Homo sapiens: one gene and its partners. The protein of the gene in region 2 interacts with the protein of the main gene of each other region in a pairwise test. Each region holds a gene or a part of one and is shown on either strand. Other genes may lie near its edges. The genes, in order: DLST, PABIR3, ZDHHC17, GIPC1 and alpha-crystallin A2 chain.

Region 1 (2,685 bases), on a different chromosome or scaffold from region 2:
GACATGCATAATTGTCATCTGTTTCCCAGGGGCAAGGGACCACGTTTCCAACTATATCCCCCACTCCATAGAAGCAAACAAGCCTCCTCAGCTCAGTGGTTCTCAAACTTGAATATGCATCAGGATCATCTGCACTTCTTCTTTAAGTCTGGGATGGGGTCTAAGAATATGCATTTCTAATAAGGTCCCAGATGATGCTGATCCAGACCACAATTTGATAATCAGTGCCTTAGCTATTAGAAACTAAGAAATGGAACTTAGGCCTGAAATTATAGTTAATGTTTTACAATTAGCATTTAGTTGGATTTCCCTTTCATCGAGACCTAGCCACTAGGACCTTAGAAGTGACGGTTCCTACCTTGCCTCCTATAGCCACTGGCCTGTCAAAGATGCCATGCATCCCCAGGATGGCAGACTGAGGGGGGTTGATAATGGGTGTTCCAAAGAGCGAGCCAAAAACGCCTCCATTGCTAATGGTGAAGGTACCGCCATCCATATCTTCAATGGCAAGTTCATTCTTTCGGGCCTAAAAACAGATTTCATAATTGAAATATCAAGCCAACCCAGTTTCCTTCACCTAAAGTCAGTCCATAATCCCAGCGCTTTGGGAGGCCGAGGCAGGAGGACTGCTTGAGGCCAGGAGTTCAAGGCCAACCTGGGCAACATAGTGAGACCCCCATCTGTATAAAAAACTTAAGAATTAGCCAGGCATGGTGGTGCACACCTGTAGTCCCAGCTACTTGGGAGGCTGAGGCAGGAGAATCGCTTGAGCCCAGGAGTGCAAGGCTGCAGTAAGCTATGACTCTACCACTCTACTCCAGCCTGGGCAACACAGCGAGACCCTGCCTCTAAAAACAAAAAAGCAAAGGAAGTCCAGAAAGCTTGTATCGAGATCGATGGCACAAGCGCTAGCTTCCGTGTGACAGTTGTTCGGCTAAGGTGTCTATGACCAGTGCTCCACCAGAGAAAAGGCACAATTTCATACAGTTGAAGACTTCAAAGATGATCTTTTCTAGCAGGTCTCATCTGATGAGATTTCAGTTACCAGAGCATGGTAAACTCCACCAGATATATAAAATACTTAGCTCTCATGGGCAACTGCTTTTCTCAGGGGCTATGCACTTGACTTTCCATGAGCACTGCTTGCTAGTGAGCCCAGCCTTCTGAAGGCTCTCTTCCCTCGCCTGCTTAGCAGCTTGTATACATCTTTCTACTTTACCTTCTCTCCCAGTTCAGTGATGGTCCGTTCAATATCTGCAAAATTCATAGCTTCCACATTCCTGATGACTGGAACCACCAGACCCTGAAGGGGGTGAAAAGCTGTTTTCAGTTGCAAATTAATAGTACCTTTTATAGTTAACAACTCCCTTGATTCAACCCATGGTATGCCCTCCCTAGAATACCTTCATTACTCAGTGTGATTAACAGAAAGTGTTAAAAGAATGCGGCATGGTTTAAAAGAAAAAAAAGGTTACTTTTACTAACTCCCTTCTAAAAATACAGAATTAAAGAAATGATTTCTCTTGTGTGATCTCCTTCACACAGATAAGGTGAGGGTCTAAGACCAACATTCCCCACCTCCTGCCCCAACATACCCGTGGGGTGGCCACTGCAACACTGATGTCAATATAATCCCTATACACCACCTCTTTGGTTGTGTCGTCAATCACTATGAGAGAGAAAATACATGTTACATACAACTCCCCAGGAAGGCCAAGACTAATGAGGTAATATGTGCATTAACAGAGTAAAAATCTGCAGAGCTTGATACAGTGTGGGCTGACCAACCACCATGAACACCACTGCATTATGCATGGCAGCTGGCATTCCACTTACTCCCATCCCAAGTATAGTATCTCCCAAGTCCCTGACTGAGCCTGGGCATAGGAGCATCCATTTCTTTGGCAGCCCTAAGAAGGGCTCAACACACTGGCTTCCATAGGATAGGTATGCACTAAACTCTCGTTAAGTAGCTCTAGTCAAGCCCTCCTTTAGCAGAGAATGACTAGGGTTAACAAATGTTCCAAAAAAGGGCAAATTAGCAAAGGAAAAGGGATATAGAGATACTACCCATTCTCTGCTTCCAACTCTCAACAAGAGGAAGAGGGGAGATCCAAGAGTAAGCGGGGTGATCTGGCTTTGAAATATGCTACCTCAAGAGATGGCAAACCAGCATCTGAAAATGTACACCTAGCAACTAATGGGAAAATAAAGGCTTGGGAATCATTTCCGCAGAAAGTCCATGTTGTATTGTTAGATAAGACATCCAGAGGAAGCATGTAATGTGAAAAAGAGGCCACGAGAACTTTTGAGAGCCGCCTACATGTGTGGGCAAGCAGAAGGGGGCCACTGAAAAAGATGAGAGCCAGTCAGGGAGGCATGAGAAGAATGGGAAAAAGAAGAGGTATACATTTGGGCAAAACAAAGATGGCCTTCTACCTCCCTAGAGCACCACTCAACAGGAGGGACTAGGGCTTCTACTTCTAGACCTTTAGGGCCCCTGACACTGCTGAGGATGGCAAAAGTAGCACTGACCCCTCTCCAATCTCCCAAGGAACAGAGAAGTGTGTCAACAGGAAAACAAAGTGCTTGTTAGGTCAACACTACAATGACGTAGGTAAGTAAAAAGGAAAGAAAATAAGCACCAGGTCCATGAGAGGCCAAGCCGAAGCTCCCAGTGAGGCC
Region 2 (3,521 bases):
GTCGTCCCGCTGTATATTGCCTAGGCTGCCCTCAAACTCCTAGGCTCAACGATGCTCCTGCCTCAGCCTCTCAAGTAGCTAGGACTACAGATCCCAGCGGTGCCCGGCATCTTTTCCTTTTTATTATAACTTTTTATTTTGAAACGGTTTAAGACTCACAAGAAGTTGCAAAAAGAATACAGATGGTTCACATGTACCCTTCATCCAGGTTCCTCCAATGTGAGAAATCATCTGTAATACTTTTGTTTTAGCTGCCTATATCCAATCAACTGCCAGTATTTTAGATTTTACCTCTATACTCGCTCTCTGATAACCACCTGATTCTTGTCAGGCTCCTTGCCAAAAACCAATTCAAGGTCTTTTTCCTTTTCCACAGACTGCATAGTCTAATTGGGCTCCTCGCCTCTCTTCTTTCCCTTCTCTAGGCTAACAGACTACCAGGGGCATCTTCCTAAAGAACAGTTTGCTCACAACTTTCAGTGACTCTCTTCAGTGCCTGTCAAATTCAGTTACGTTCTTTACTATGACATTCAAAGCCATCCACGGTTTGGCTCCAGACTCTTCAATTTCAAGGACTAGTACAATTTCAAAACAAAATCTAGGCAGAAACATACAGTTGCCACCTTTTTCTTTTGCCAAGTCATTTTTTTTTAAATCCCACCATTGACCAATACCATCATTTCATTTGTAAAATGACCCTTTGGTATTAAGAAAATAAGAGAATAACAATCTCAGAGTACAGTACAGTCCTGCCCAGGAAAGATAATTAACAACTACATAATGACATCTTTAATTATGCTGTACTTAACTCTTTTAAAAGCACGGATTGGTAAAAACTTCACCTGAGATCAGCACTGATCAGCAGATGAACATCTGGGAGTCAGGGGTTCAGGCAAAGTGGACCATTCAGTTCTCTGGAACACATCTATGCTTTTCTGCCTTCAAGTCTGTTCTACATATAATACTTAAAATACTATCCCAACCATTGTTCCCCCTCTTTTCCAGGGTGTATCCTATCAATCCATGAAGGCCCATCTCAAATGCCAACTTCTTCATAAACTTTTCCTTCTCCCTCACCAGTCCCGCTGTAATTTCTCCCTTCCTTCTTTGAATTCCCCTAGCACTTTATTTAGCTCCCTACGCACTTATCTTAAGCTCCCTACGCACTTATCTTACTCTACCATATATTTAAGTCCTTCTAGTATTTATATTCCCTATTAAAGCTTATTGAGCCCTGAGATACATCTTTGCAACATCATAATTTGCATATAACAGGCAGTAACTTAATATTTTGTGAATGGAAGGTATATGGATGTATCTAATTCTACTTACTTTCCCAGTCATTTTCTTTGTGAGAATAGGAATATGTTCTGGCAGTCACTCATAAGAAAATTGGAGGGACACTAATGGGCTATTTCTTTCCATTCTTTTTTGTGTACATGTGTAGGGGGCTTAATACTTAGGGCTGACAATGATATAGTCTACCCTAAATTTGTTTGCCAATTTTAGTAAGACTATAACTGAAAGAAAGAATTCAGGCAATATATACTTCAACTGGTATGCATCATTCAACATGAATTTATAAAACCCTAGCTGATATCTGAACTAAGTGCTACTTTTAACTCGGAAAAAGCAGAAGTAGTATAACTGGATGGATGTTCAATGTTCCACATCAAATGATCAATAAACAGCTCTGTCTAAACTATAATAGATTTATGTCACTTATATTCCCAAAGCAATCATTTCTCATGGCTGCTATTCTTCCACGTTCGTAAAAGTTCAATAAACCAGAAGATGGGCAAACTTTTTCTGCGAAGGGCCAGAGAGTAAATATTTTAGGATTTGTGGGCCATACAGTATCTGTTGCAACTCCTCAGTTCTGCCACTGCAGTGGGAAAGTAGCCATAGATAACAACTAAACAAATGGGGATGGTTCCATTCCAATAAAATTTTATTTGCAAATCCAGGTGGTGGGCTGCATTTGGCTCTGGGGCAGTAATTTGCCTTTCAAATAGAATTGAGGGTCAGGAGTGGTGGCTCACGCCTGTAATCCCAGCACTTTGGGAGGCCAAGGTGGGTGGATCACAAGGTCAAGGGTTCAAGACTAGCCTGGCCAACATAGTGAAACCCATCTCTACTAAAAATACAAAAATTAGCCTGGCCAACATAGTGAAACCCGTCTCTACTAAAAATACAAAAATTAGCCTGGCGTGGTGGTGCATGCCTGTAGTCCCAGCTACTCGGAGGCTGAGGCAGGAGAATCGCTTGAGCCCAGGAGGCAGAGGTTGCAGTGAGCCGAGATTGAACCACTGCACTCCAGCCTCAAGACTCCATCTCAGGAAAAAAAAAAAAAAGAATTGAGGCAGTAACAGTTTAAATGCAGGGTCAAGGTAGAGGTTTTTAAGGTAGGGAGGCACTGGCAGGAATACAAGAACCTAATCTCTGAGTCTTTGAATAAGGGTCAGAGAAAGAGAAGAAAAAACTCCTAGCTTTAAGTATAGTTATTGACACCAGTAATAAAGTCAGCCAATTACAGAGATAAAGAGTATAAAGAACCAAGAGGTTCAAAACTTTTGACGTTGGAATTTTTATTAGTTCAAGATATACATAAAACAGTGCAGATACTTCTTTAAAACAGTAATACTGTATTAAAGAGTTGATATGAAAGAAACAAACCTAAGGAATTTAATTCTGCAAATGCTGGTGCAAGAGGGTCTTTATATAGAAGAAACATCAAGCAAAGTTCGAAAATTACTTGAAAGAGGTGCAACAATGTTTAGCAAGCTAAATATTTTCTACAACAGCACAAAACATCCCCTCAGATCATTTGGGCAAGTTCCCTGACCTCAGGCATGTCACACATCATTCCTATGTTACTTCTTTCTGAGGGACTGGAGTCTCTGAACTCTGTCCACTTTGTGGTTTCTATATCTTTAATTCCTACTAAAGAAATATGCTAGTGACTTTCACCTTTCTGAAAAGAATGCTTTACTGGCCAGGTATAGTTTAGAAAGAGGAAGTACTCAAGTATTAGAGGGCCAAGGAAGGAAAAAAAAAGGGAGAAAAGTGAGCAGTATACATATGCAAATGAGAACTGAGGTGAAAATGAATTCAACTAAGGCTCAGTGTAATCCTACTCTAAATTTTTCTTGCTTCAGAATAACTTCTCTGACTATGCCCTACATTTTCTACAACAGCACAAAATATGCCCTCAGATCATCTGGGCAAGTCCCCTAATCTCAGGGATGTCACACATCATTCCTATGTTACTTCTTTCTGACAGACTAGAGTCCCTGGACTCCGTCCACTTTGTGGTTTCTGTATCTTTAAACTCCTACTACAGAAATATGCTAGTGACCCTTATCTTTCTGTACAAATTTTACTTCATGCATCAGGATCTTAAGCTATGGAATGTAACACTGTAGCTATGCTCTAATATAAGCAAAAAACAAACAAACAAAACAAAAAAATCCTTTGCAGAACAAAGCAAGGTATGAAGGGATAACTGAGATCTCTCTGTT
Region 3 (3,521 bases), on a different chromosome or scaffold from region 2:
GAAAAATCAAGTAATAAAAATGTAGTAAAAATTTATCAGAACATAGTTAACATTAAGAAAAACAATATTATTGACTACAGTCGATAAAAGAGAAAGGGAAGAAGAAATAAAAATATGCTAATTTTATTACTGCTTATAATTAGGAACTATGTAATCAGAACTAATAAAATTTGAGCAACCATCTGACTGAAGAGAGAGAGAGAAACTGTGTGACTATCTGAGGAAAGAATATACCAGCAGAAGAAACAGCAACCAAAAGGCCCTTAGACAACAGCATGTCAGAGTTGCTGAAAAAGTAGCAAAAAAAAACTAGTGCAGTTAAAGCAGAGTGATGATGGGGAGATGGCAGAAGTGGAGCTCAAAGGTATCCAGGGGTTAAACGGCACAGTGCTCTAGCACAGAGAAAAACTCTGGGCCCTCACAGTATGATGCAATGCACATTGGAAGAGTGTCTTTTACAATATATTAGTGTATACATGTTGAGTATCCTTTATGTAAAATGCTTGGGACCAGAAGTGTTTGAATATGTGTATGTTTTTCCTATGTTGAAATATTTGCATATATGTAATAAAATCTTGAGAATGGGACCAAAATCTAAATGTGGAATTCATTCATCTTTCATATACACCTTATACATACAGCCTGAAGGCAATTTTATTCAATATTTTAAATAATTTTGTACATGAAACAAAGTGTGTGTACAACGAACTATATTGGAAAGCAAAGGTGTCAGGGGTAAAATTTTCCACTTGTGGCATCATGTTGACACTCAAAACGTTTTGGATTTCGCAGCATTCCGGATTTTCAGATTACAGATGCTTAATCTGTACATGGAATAAAATCTCTTAAAATACATACTACATTATTAAAGGAAGTAACCTCAGTCAGCAGATGGCCAAGGGGAGAGGTGAGATTTCATTTTCTAAGTCATATTCTATTATGCCTGAATATTTCATAATAAACATTTATTATCTTTGTGTGCAGAAAAAAAATTTACTCATGGAAAAAAAAAACTATTTCTCAGACATTTATCATCATCATTATCATCATCATGCCCTTTTTGTACCAAAAGCACTGACAGGTAGAAATCCTGCCCTTTGAGAATTTTATAGCCTATATACTATACCAGAGGTTAAAAAGATTAATGAAATAATCCAAACTCCAAAATCAATAAGTTAAAAAAAAGACCATGAAGACTCAAAAATGTACACCACCTTTCTTTCCCAGTTAAAAACTGAAAGTAAAAAAGTGAATGTGTATTGTAGATTTATTCTGCAATATGGAAGGCCACTAAAGACCTTGTGATGTGCTATAGCACCATTTACTGCTTCAACGTTTGTTCTAGAAAAAAACTGCAGAATAACAAGAATAATCTCCTATAGCAGTTGCTCTCCAGATGACCCCCCATAAACCTGGCCTCTTGGTATTCACACCCTTGTGTGGTCCCTTCCCTCCGGGTGGTTATGGCCCTTGTTAACTCACTTTAACTGATAGAATGGAGAAAAAACGTTGCTGTGTCAGTTCAAGACCTAAGACTTAAAAATGCAAAACAGCTTCTACTTTTGTTCTTTTGGGAGCTCTAAGCCAATATGTAAGAAGTCTAGTTCTCCTGCTGGAAAGACCACATGGACTGGTATTGAAAAGTAGAAGTTCTGACACTACATAGAGAAAGAAAGAGGCCTCGCTGCCCCAGCCTCCCAGTTAAGCAGTTTGTAGCCATTCCTATCAAGTCACAAGATATGTGAGCCAATCTTCCAGCTCAGTCAAGCCGCCAGACAACTGCAGCCACCAGCCAAGGAGAAAAACCATCCAGCCAAGCCCACAAAATTGTGAGACGTATTAATTGGTTGGTATTGTTCTTAAGCCATTAGATTTTGGCAGTAGTTTTTTAACACAGTAACAGACAATAACCCCCCCTCCCCTTCCAGCAATTAACTTTATCAGTCTATGCCTCTTTTCCTAAACTATAATGCACAACACAACTGCCACTGCTTGAGACTGCCAACAACAAATACTGTAAAACCTTCATTAAAAGAAATAGTATTCAAATTCTAAATCCGCATAGAATTTTAAATTAACAATAAATACATGTTGATAGCAACAAATTAAATACATATATCTTAAAGTTATTCTTGTGATGAGATCCTTACTTATAAAATTAATGTTCAAATATAACCAGAAAAAACACACTAAAGAAAAACTGGGTGACATTACTTTTAACAAAATACGTTTATTACAAAAACATGATTATATAAACTGGTAATATTTAATGTGATTATGGTCACTGCACACTCAAGAAAAATCAGGAACAACCACTTAAAATATGATGTTTTTCTGACAAGTAAGAAGCAGCATTATCTTATACAGCAGAAACTGATCTTAAAAAATGTATCCCTCTCAAGAGATATTTAATATATAAAATAACCAATAAATAAGTTCAAAAAAGTTTGGATGAATTCAGATGATATATTCAAAATACATAAAGAAAAAATAGATACTTATATTTTCTCTCTTAATTTCTGAGCTTTATCTCCATTACTCTTAGAAATAAAAAACCCAACTTCATCATTATCTGGTTCATGATTTTCATGCTGGCTTTTATGTTAGGTACATTAAATATCTCCATATCAAACTCACTATATTTATGTTCTTCACCCATCAGAAAGTGCTATTTAAATATCAACGGCTTGTTACAACACCAATAATATTAGGCATTTAAACTATGAAGAACATCTGATTAAAATCCATACCACTGAGATTTTTTTTACCTGTCCTTTTGCTATGAGATAAGCAACAATTGAGGTATGTCCGAACTGAGCAGCCAGATGAATACAGCTACATCCTTCTCCATCAATTAATGAAGGATCTGCACCATATTTCATTAGTTGCACAACCATGGATAGATGGCCTTGTCTAAAACATAAAAGAATAAACACTTAGATATATAAAGTTATTTCAAACAGGATCCTCTGGGAAGAGCTTTTTCAAGTAAGGTATGGTGGGAAGATTACGTATGTATTTTGAAAAGTTATTTTAAAATAGATACATGTCAAAATACATTTAGGATTTTATGGTTCTTAGAAGTCTTAACTAGATTAACAGTCTGAAAATGTATGGAAGTACTCATAACTTATTTAAATATATAGTAAATAATTACTATATTCTATTATGTCCATTCTAATATTATCTCAATCATCCCAAGAAATGAGCTAATTCTTTCATTGTAAATATATACAGGCTGCAAAAATATTACGTTTAGAAATCCAAAGTTTAATCCAATCTTATAACTAACTGAATTAATATCAGCATGGCCAGGGAAACTTTGGACAATAAACTTTTGCTTCTTTACAGGTAATATTTCACAATAAAACATCAGCATATTTATGATATTAACTAACGGCATAATAAGCTCTCCTATTCATTTTAGTATATCATTTTTTTAAAGTTGTTTATTTATATACTAATAAAGGAACCAAAGGAAAAAAATCCAGAAGCAAATTTAAACCTTGTGGCCCAGTGCA
Region 4 (3,521 bases), on a different chromosome or scaffold from region 2:
TGGGTTTCTCTGCTGAACAGCCATTATTTATACTCATTCCAAGGCTTCTAACATGATGATACTATTTCCTCGTATTTCCACCATTCCAATATTTTTCTGTTGTCCACTAGTCGCCATCTCCACACATTCATCTATCACAAGGTTCATAAAGGGATCAAATCCCCGCAATATTCCTTGGACATGTCTGCCACCATTTAATTTCAATGAAAACTTCTTGTCCGTAAATTTTTTCAACTCAGGAGGGTGAGCTTTGCTCATGGTGTATACTCCATGGGCTCACAGATGCCTTGGAACAGAACGCACGGCTTCCCTCACGCTACCGCGGTAGGCCCAGCATCTTGTGCCTGGCGTCATCGACCTCGTTAGCCAATCGATTGTTCGAGCATGAGTTTCAATGGGGCAAACCTTATCCAAACCATAGCAGGCTGGGTGTGGTAGCTCATGCCTATAATCCCAGCACTTTGGAAGGCCAAGGCGGGAGGATTGCTTGAGCCCAGGAGTTCAGGACCAATCTGGGCAACGTAGTGAGACCCGTCTCTACAAAAAATAAAAATTAGCTGGGCATGGCTGTGAACACCTGTAGTCTCAGCTATTCAGGAGGTTGAGACAGGAGGATTGCTTGAGCCCAGGAATTTGAGGCTGTAGTGAGCTGTGATCACATCACTCCACTGCAGCCTGGACGACAGAGTGAGACCCCATTAAAAAAAAAAAATCAGGAAAACATAGCAACCTGTTACCTCCCTGCCCTCATGTTCTCACTATCCCCCCTTCACTCACTGTTCCAACCCCCCAGGCCTCCTCACTGTTCCTCAAACATGCCAATTGCATGCCCAGTTCAGGGCTTGGCTTTTCTTTCTTTTTTTTTTTTTTGTTTAGACCGAGTCTCGCTCTGTCGCCCAGGCTGGAGTGCAATGGCGTGATCTCAGCTCACTGCAACCTCAGCCTCAGGAGTAGCTGGGATTACAAGCATGCACCACTACGCCCAGCTAATTTTTGTGTTTTTAGTAGAGATGAGGTTTGCATGCACCACCATACCTGGCTAATTTTTGTATTTTTAGTAGAGACGGGGTTTCACCATGTTGGTCAGGCTGGCCTCAAACTCCTGACCTCATGATCCGCCTGCCTTGGCCTTCCAAAGTGCTGGGATTACAGGCATGAGCCACCGCGCCTGGCTAGGGCTTTTCTTTGTTTTTTTGAGATGGAGTCTCGGTTTGTCACCCAGGCTGGAGTGCAGTGGTGTGATCTCGGCTCACTGCAACCTCCGCCTCCTGCATTCAAGTGATTCTCCCACCTCAGCTTCCCGAGTAGCTGGGATCACAGGTGTGCACCACCACGCCCACCTGTGTATTGTATTTTTAGTAGAGATGGGGTTTTGCCATGTAGGCCAGGCTGGTCTCAAACTGCTGACCTCATGTGATCCGTCAACCTCAACCTCCCAAAGTGCTGGGATTACAGGCTTGAGCCACCATGCCCAGCCCCAGCTCAGGGCCTTTCTACTGGCTGTTCTCTCTACTTGGGACGTTCTTGCCCCAAATCATTGCATGAATGCTTCCTCCTGTGGTTCAGGTCTCAAGTTCAGCTTCACGTGCTCAGAGACGCCCTCACTGATCTTGTCTATAGAACTTGTCTTGCTTTGTCTCCATATCACTATTAAAAATTATATGAGGCTGGGCACAGTGGCTCATGCCTATAATCCCAGCTCGTTAGGAGTCCATGGCAGGAGGATTACTTGAGCCCAGGAGTTTGAGACCAGCCGGGACAACATAGCAAGACCCTGTCTCTAAAAAATAAAAATAAAAAAATTAGCAGGGCATGGTGGCAAGCACCTGTGGTCCCAGCTACTCAAGAGGCTGGGGCGGGAGGATCACTTGAGCCCAGGAGGGCAAGGGTGCAGTGAGCTCTGATTGCACCACTGCACCTCAGCCTTGGCAACACAGCAAGACTCTGTCAAAAAAAAAAAGGAAAATAAAGGAAAAAATTTATATTAGACATTTACACATTTCCCTGCTCCCTGTGCATTTCCTCTTCCGGACTGTCCACTTCTGGAGGTCATGTGCAGAGCCCCAGCTAGCCTATATAGCATCTGTGAGTGAATTAGAAAGACATCTCTTCGGCCGGGTGCAGTGACTCATGCCTGTAATCCCAGCACTTTGGGAGGCTGAGGCGAGCGAATCACGAGGTCAGGAGTTCGAGACCAGCCTGGCCAACGTAGTGAAACTCCGTCTCTACTAAAAACACAAAAAAAATTAGCCGGGCATGGTGGCGTGCACCTGTAGTCCCAGCTACCTGGGAGGCTGAGGCAGGAGAATTGCTGGAACCTGGGAGGCGGAGCTTGCAGTGAGCCAAGATTGCACCACTGCACTCCAGCCTGGGCAACACAGAACAGACTCTGTCTCAAAAAAAAAAAAAGAAAGAAAGAAAAAAAAGAAAAAAAGAAAGGCATCTCTTCCTCCTGGCAGACACCACACCAAGAAATATAGCTTGGCAGGCAGTGCACAGACCGAATTTCAGTCCTACTTGCCACCTTGGTCTAGTAATTTTGCACAGTACACAACTTGTGTAACTGAACATGGTGGCCCTAGTCAGGGATCTTGCTTTTTTTATTGAAGACAGTATCTAAAATGGTGCACAGAATACAGTAAGTACTAAAAAGAAAAAAAAAATTGTTTGAAGGGAGGGGAGAATGGAGAAAGAGAGAAATAAAGAAGCGGGCCGGGCGCGGTGGCTCATGCCTGTAATCCCAGCACTTCAAGAGGCTGAGGCGGGTGGATCACTTGAGGTCAGGAGTCTTCTGTAGTCACAGCTACTTGGGAGGTTGAGGCAGGTGAATCGCTTGAACCCAGGAGGCGGAGGTTGCAGTGAGCTGAGATCGCACCACTGCACTGCTGCTTGGGTGACAGAGCAAGACTCTGTCTCAAAAAAAAAAAAAAAAAGAAAGAAAGAAAGCAAGAAAGAAACAGAAAAAAAATGTATGTGGTGTAGAAAACAACCCCAAAAGTCTTAGTGGCTGAATTCAGCAAAGATTTGCTTTTTCTTCCTGCTACACTTCCATTGCGGCTCAGCAGGGGGCACCATTCACCGTAGTCATTCAGGGCCCGGCCTCATAGAGTCGCCACCATATCAAATGTGGCTCATCACCCTGCCTGGGAAAGATAGATCTCTGGAGGCTCCAGCACTTAAATGCCTCAGCCCAGAAATGTCATGTGCCACTTCCTCTCACAACCTATTTGCCAGAAATAATCATTTATCTGCCCAGTCACAAGGAGGCCAGGAAGTGCCATCCACCTGTTTGGTCCAAAGGGGGAGAGTCAGAAATTTTTTGCACACAGTGTTAGTGACTGTGGCTGAGAGGAAAATAGAAGCGTAGTCGCTTTCAGCCTCCATTTTCTCATCTGTTCAATGGGCATAATTGTAGCATAACGTGATCCCTGTGTTACAGTGTGGTGTGAGGGTTAAGGAAGGTCACAGGCCGGGCACGGTGGCCCATACCTGTCATGCCAGAGCTTTGGGAGGCCAAAAGC
Region 5 (3,521 bases), on a different chromosome or scaffold from region 2:
CCAATATTACAATAATCCTCGCTCTACAATCATAACCTAGGAAAAACCAGGCCATACAGACACAGGAGCTGAGGGGACATAGTGAGAAGTGACCAGAAGACAAGCATGCGAGCCTTCTGTTATGCCCGGACAGGGCCACCAGAGGGCTCCTTGGTCTAGCGGTAACGCCAGCGTCTGGGAAGACGCCTGTTGTCAAGCGGACCATGGTCTAGCAGTAGCGTCAGTGTCAAGGAAAAACACCGGCTACTTAGCAGACCGGGAAAGGGAGTCTCCCTTTCCCCACGGGAGTTCAGAGAAGACTCTACTCCTCCATCTCTTGTGGAGGGCCTCAGGCCCACCTTCAGTTATCCGAAGGCATACCATCTCCCTGTGACGCTGTGCTTCAGTGGTCACACTCCTAGTCCGCCTTCGTGTTCCATCCTGTACACCTGGCTCTGCCTTCTAGATAGCAGTAGCAAATTAGTGAAAGTACTAAAAGTCTCTGATATGCAGAAATAATGGCGCAAGCTGTCTCTCTCTCTCCCCCTCTCTGCCTTGGCTGCCAGGCAGGGAAGGGCCCCCTGTCCAGTGGACACGTGACCCACGTGACCCTACCTATCATTGGAGATGACTCACACTCTTTACCCTGCCCCTTTTGCTTTGTATCCAATAAATAACAACGCAGCCAGACATTCGGGGCCATTACCGGTCTCCGCATCTTGGTGTTAGTGGTCCCCCAGGCCCACCTGTCTTTCCTTTTATCTCTTTGTCTTGTGTCTTTATTTCTACAATCTCTCGTCTCTGCACATGGGGAGAAAAACCCACCGATCCTGTGGGGCTGGTCCCTACACCTAGTGAAGACGAGGTTGCCAGGAAAAGTATTTCCACCGAAGGCAAGGTCTGTGATGTAAACTGTAAGACAGTGTCTTCAGCCAATGTCTTCCCCATCTTCAGTTTCTAGCAGTTTGGGTGCAGGGAGGGAGACACCCTTACAAATGGAGATTTCCTTCATATATATAAATTTTTTTTACAAAGAGTTTCAAAATAGCCAGCTAAATGCTAGAAAGCCATATTTTGGATATCAAAGTTACACAAGGGTCTGCATTAGTTAGGGTTCTCCAGAGGGGCAGAACTAACAGAATAGACATATATATGAAAGGGAGTATATTAGGGAGAACTAGTTCACACCATCACAGGGTGAAGTCCCATGATACACCGTCTGCAAGCTGCAGAAGAAGGAAGCCAGGAGTGGCTCAGTCGGAGTCCAAAAGCCTCAAAAGTAGGGAAGCCAACAGTGCAGGCTTCAATCTGTGGCTGAAGGCCCGAGAGTCCCAAGCAAACCACTGGCTTAAGTCCAAGAGTCCAAAGGCCAAAGAACCTGGAGTCTGATGTCCAAGGGCAGGGGGAACGGAGGAGGCATCCAGCACAGGAGAAAGATGAAAGTGAAACTGCCTCTGCAAAAATTACAACTGAGGAAATGATGACAGTGAAAGAGATCAGACCTACCTGACTCCATCTTGCTTCTAACCTTTAGGCTGTCTTTGTTCATGCCTGGGCACAGGCCAACTAACCTTGGGAAGGAATTTAGCTTATAGTTTGACTCTGAAACAAAATTGATAATAGCCATTTCCCAGAAAGATCCCCTTCTTGCCTAGGAACCAGTCTGCCTTTGTAGGAGTAACAAATTAGCTACAAGATTAGAAATTTTAAGGCCCAAGGTGGCTGCCTTCACGTTAGTACCCGTGTGAAGTCGACAGGGACGGTTCCTGTTGTCTTCTTGAAGGCCACATCTGGTCCTCATTCTTGGGCTTATTTGGTGTGCTGTTGAAGGGGCAGACTAGAGAAATGGCAGGGAGCCTCTTATGTAGGGCAGGTAGGCGCCTGTGGGACTAGGTGTGGCATGCAGAAGCTTCTTTCTTGGTATTCCTAGATTGATTGGTATAAGGCTCCTACCCCCCAAAGTAGTTGATCCTTGGAACGAAAGGATGGCCATGTTCAGAGTGTATGACAACATCAGGATCCTGGGAAACTTTGAAAAGCACCCCAAAAGCTGATCAGGGACCCCATATGGCTTCGAGATTGGAAGGGGAATGAATTGCAACGCTGTATGCTAAAGAAGAAAATGGTTGGAAACAGAATGTTTGCTGATGAGCTGCACAACCTCAATAAACGCATCAGCTGTCTCTACAAACACTTTAACTGACATGGGAAATATCGATAGAAGAGAAAGCTGAGAACTTCAGAAAAGGCTCATCTGTCACCCTGGAGAAGGGAAGCTGTACTTTTCCTTATGAGGAAACGGCTTTGTATGCTCTCTGTAATAAAATGGGGCTTCTTTGAAAAAAAAAAAAAGAAATTTTGATTTAAAGGTCATCCAGCCTCTGGCTGTCCAAACCTCCCGAAATTGCTCCTGGGGATAACATCACCATTGTAATCCGAAGATCAGTGCTTGAGGTATTTATTCTGCAAGACCCTGTACTCTATGGATCAGCTGATACCACACAGACCGGCTATCTGGCTCAGCCAGTTCTGCCATTGTACCCAGGAACAGAAGACAGCAAGGAAACCTCACTTTGACCTCCCTGTGATTCCATCTCCAGCCAGATCAATCAGCACTCCTACTTCCTGAGCCGCCAAATTATCTTTAAAAACTCTGATCTGCAAATTCTTGGGATGTCTAATTTGAGTAATAATAAAACTCCAGTCGCCCGCACAGCTAGCTCTGTGTAAATTACTCGTTCTGCATTGCAATTCCCCTGTCCTGATAAATCCGCTCCATCTAGGCAGCCGGCTAGGTGAACTCACTGGGTGGCTACAAAAGCCAGAAGACTCAGCAAGCCAGCTTCTCCCACCCTCCTCCACCTGCTTTGTTCCAGCCACACTGTCAGCCAATCGGATGGTGCCCACCCACACTGAGGGTGGGTCTTCCTCTCTCAGTCCACTGACTCCAATGTCAATTTCCTCTGGCAACACCCTCACAACACACCCAAGAACAATACTTTACCATCCTTCAATCCAATCAGGTTGACAGCTAATATTAACCATCACAGGGTCTTTTCAACTTAGCTTGTTTCTCTATTAGATTACTGACTTCAGGGTGAAGCCCTTTAATGAATAGGGCAAAGGAGGCATTCTCTATGCCTGGAATCAGCATGGATAGCTCTGAAAAGAAGCAAGCCTACTTTACCTGCTTGAGGGCCTACTTTTAACTTTTTATAAACACTTTATCCAACTTATTACATATAAAAAAAGAAAAAACTTGGCCGGGTGCGGTGGCTCATGTCTGTAATCCCAGCACTTTGGGAGGCCAAGGTGGGTGGATCACCTGAGATCAGGAGTTCAAGACCAGCCTGGCCAACATGGTGAAACTTTGTCTCTACTAAAAATACAAAATTAGCCAGGTGTGGTGGTGCATGCATGTAATCCCAGCTACTTGGGAGGCTGAGGCAGGAGGACCGCTTGAACCTGGCAGGCCGAAGTTGCAGTGAGCCGAGATCAGGCCATCCCTTACACTCCAGCCTGGGCAATGAGAGCGAAACTCC

Evidence for each region.
Region 1: the proteins of PABIR3 (region 2) and DLST interact in binary tests that used the Homo sapiens proteins (3 or more experiments, as listed by UniProt).
Region 3: the proteins of PABIR3 (region 2) and ZDHHC17 interact in a two-hybrid assay, tested with the Homo sapiens proteins (one large-scale study listed by BioGRID and IntAct).
Region 4: the proteins of PABIR3 (region 2) and GIPC1 interact in binary tests that used the Homo sapiens proteins (3 or more experiments, as listed by UniProt).
Region 5: the proteins of PABIR3 (region 2) and alpha-crystallin A2 chain interact in binary tests that used the Homo sapiens proteins (3 or more experiments, as listed by UniProt).

Annotation. Positions count from the first base shown.
Region 1 is NC_000014.9:74,898,907-74,901,591, reverse strand, and holds part of DLST (dihydrolipoyllysine-residue succinyltransferase component of 2-oxoglutarate dehydrogenase complex, mitochondrial isoform 1 precursor), read right to left. Parts: intron 1,670-2,685; coding exon 1,596-1,669; intron 1,304-1,595; coding exon 1,220-1,303; intron 527-1,219; coding exon 359-526; intron 1-358. UniProt on the Homo sapiens protein: Dihydrolipoamide succinyltransferase (E2) component of the 2-oxoglutarate dehydrogenase complex. The 2-oxoglutarate dehydrogenase complex catalyzes the overall conversion of 2-oxoglutarate to succinyl-CoA and CO(2).
Region 2 is NC_000023.11:134,810,234-134,813,754, reverse strand, and holds part of PABIR3 (PABIR family member 1), read right to left. Parts: exon of another isoform or gene 2,572-3,521; intron 1-2,571.
Region 3 is NC_000012.12:76,809,105-76,812,625, reverse strand, and holds part of ZDHHC17 (palmitoyltransferase ZDHHC17), read right to left. Parts: coding exon 3,506-3,521; intron 2,914-3,505; coding exon 2,769-2,913; intron 1-2,768. UniProt on the Homo sapiens protein: Palmitoyltransferase that catalyzes the addition of palmitate onto various protein substrates and is involved in a variety of cellular processes.
Region 4 is NC_000019.10:14,486,125-14,489,645, reverse strand, and holds part of GIPC1 (PDZ domain-containing protein GIPC1), read left to right. Parts: intron 1-3,521. UniProt on the Homo sapiens protein: May be involved in G protein-linked signaling.
Region 5 is NC_000021.9:6,505,693-6,509,213, reverse strand, and holds part of alpha-crystallin A2 chain, read right to left. Parts: intron 2,412-3,521; exon of another isoform or gene 1,825-2,411; intron 1-1,824. UniProt on the Homo sapiens protein: Contributes to the transparency and refractive index of the lens. In its oxidized form (absence of intramolecular disulfide bond), acts as a chaperone, preventing aggregation of various proteins under a wide range of stress conditions.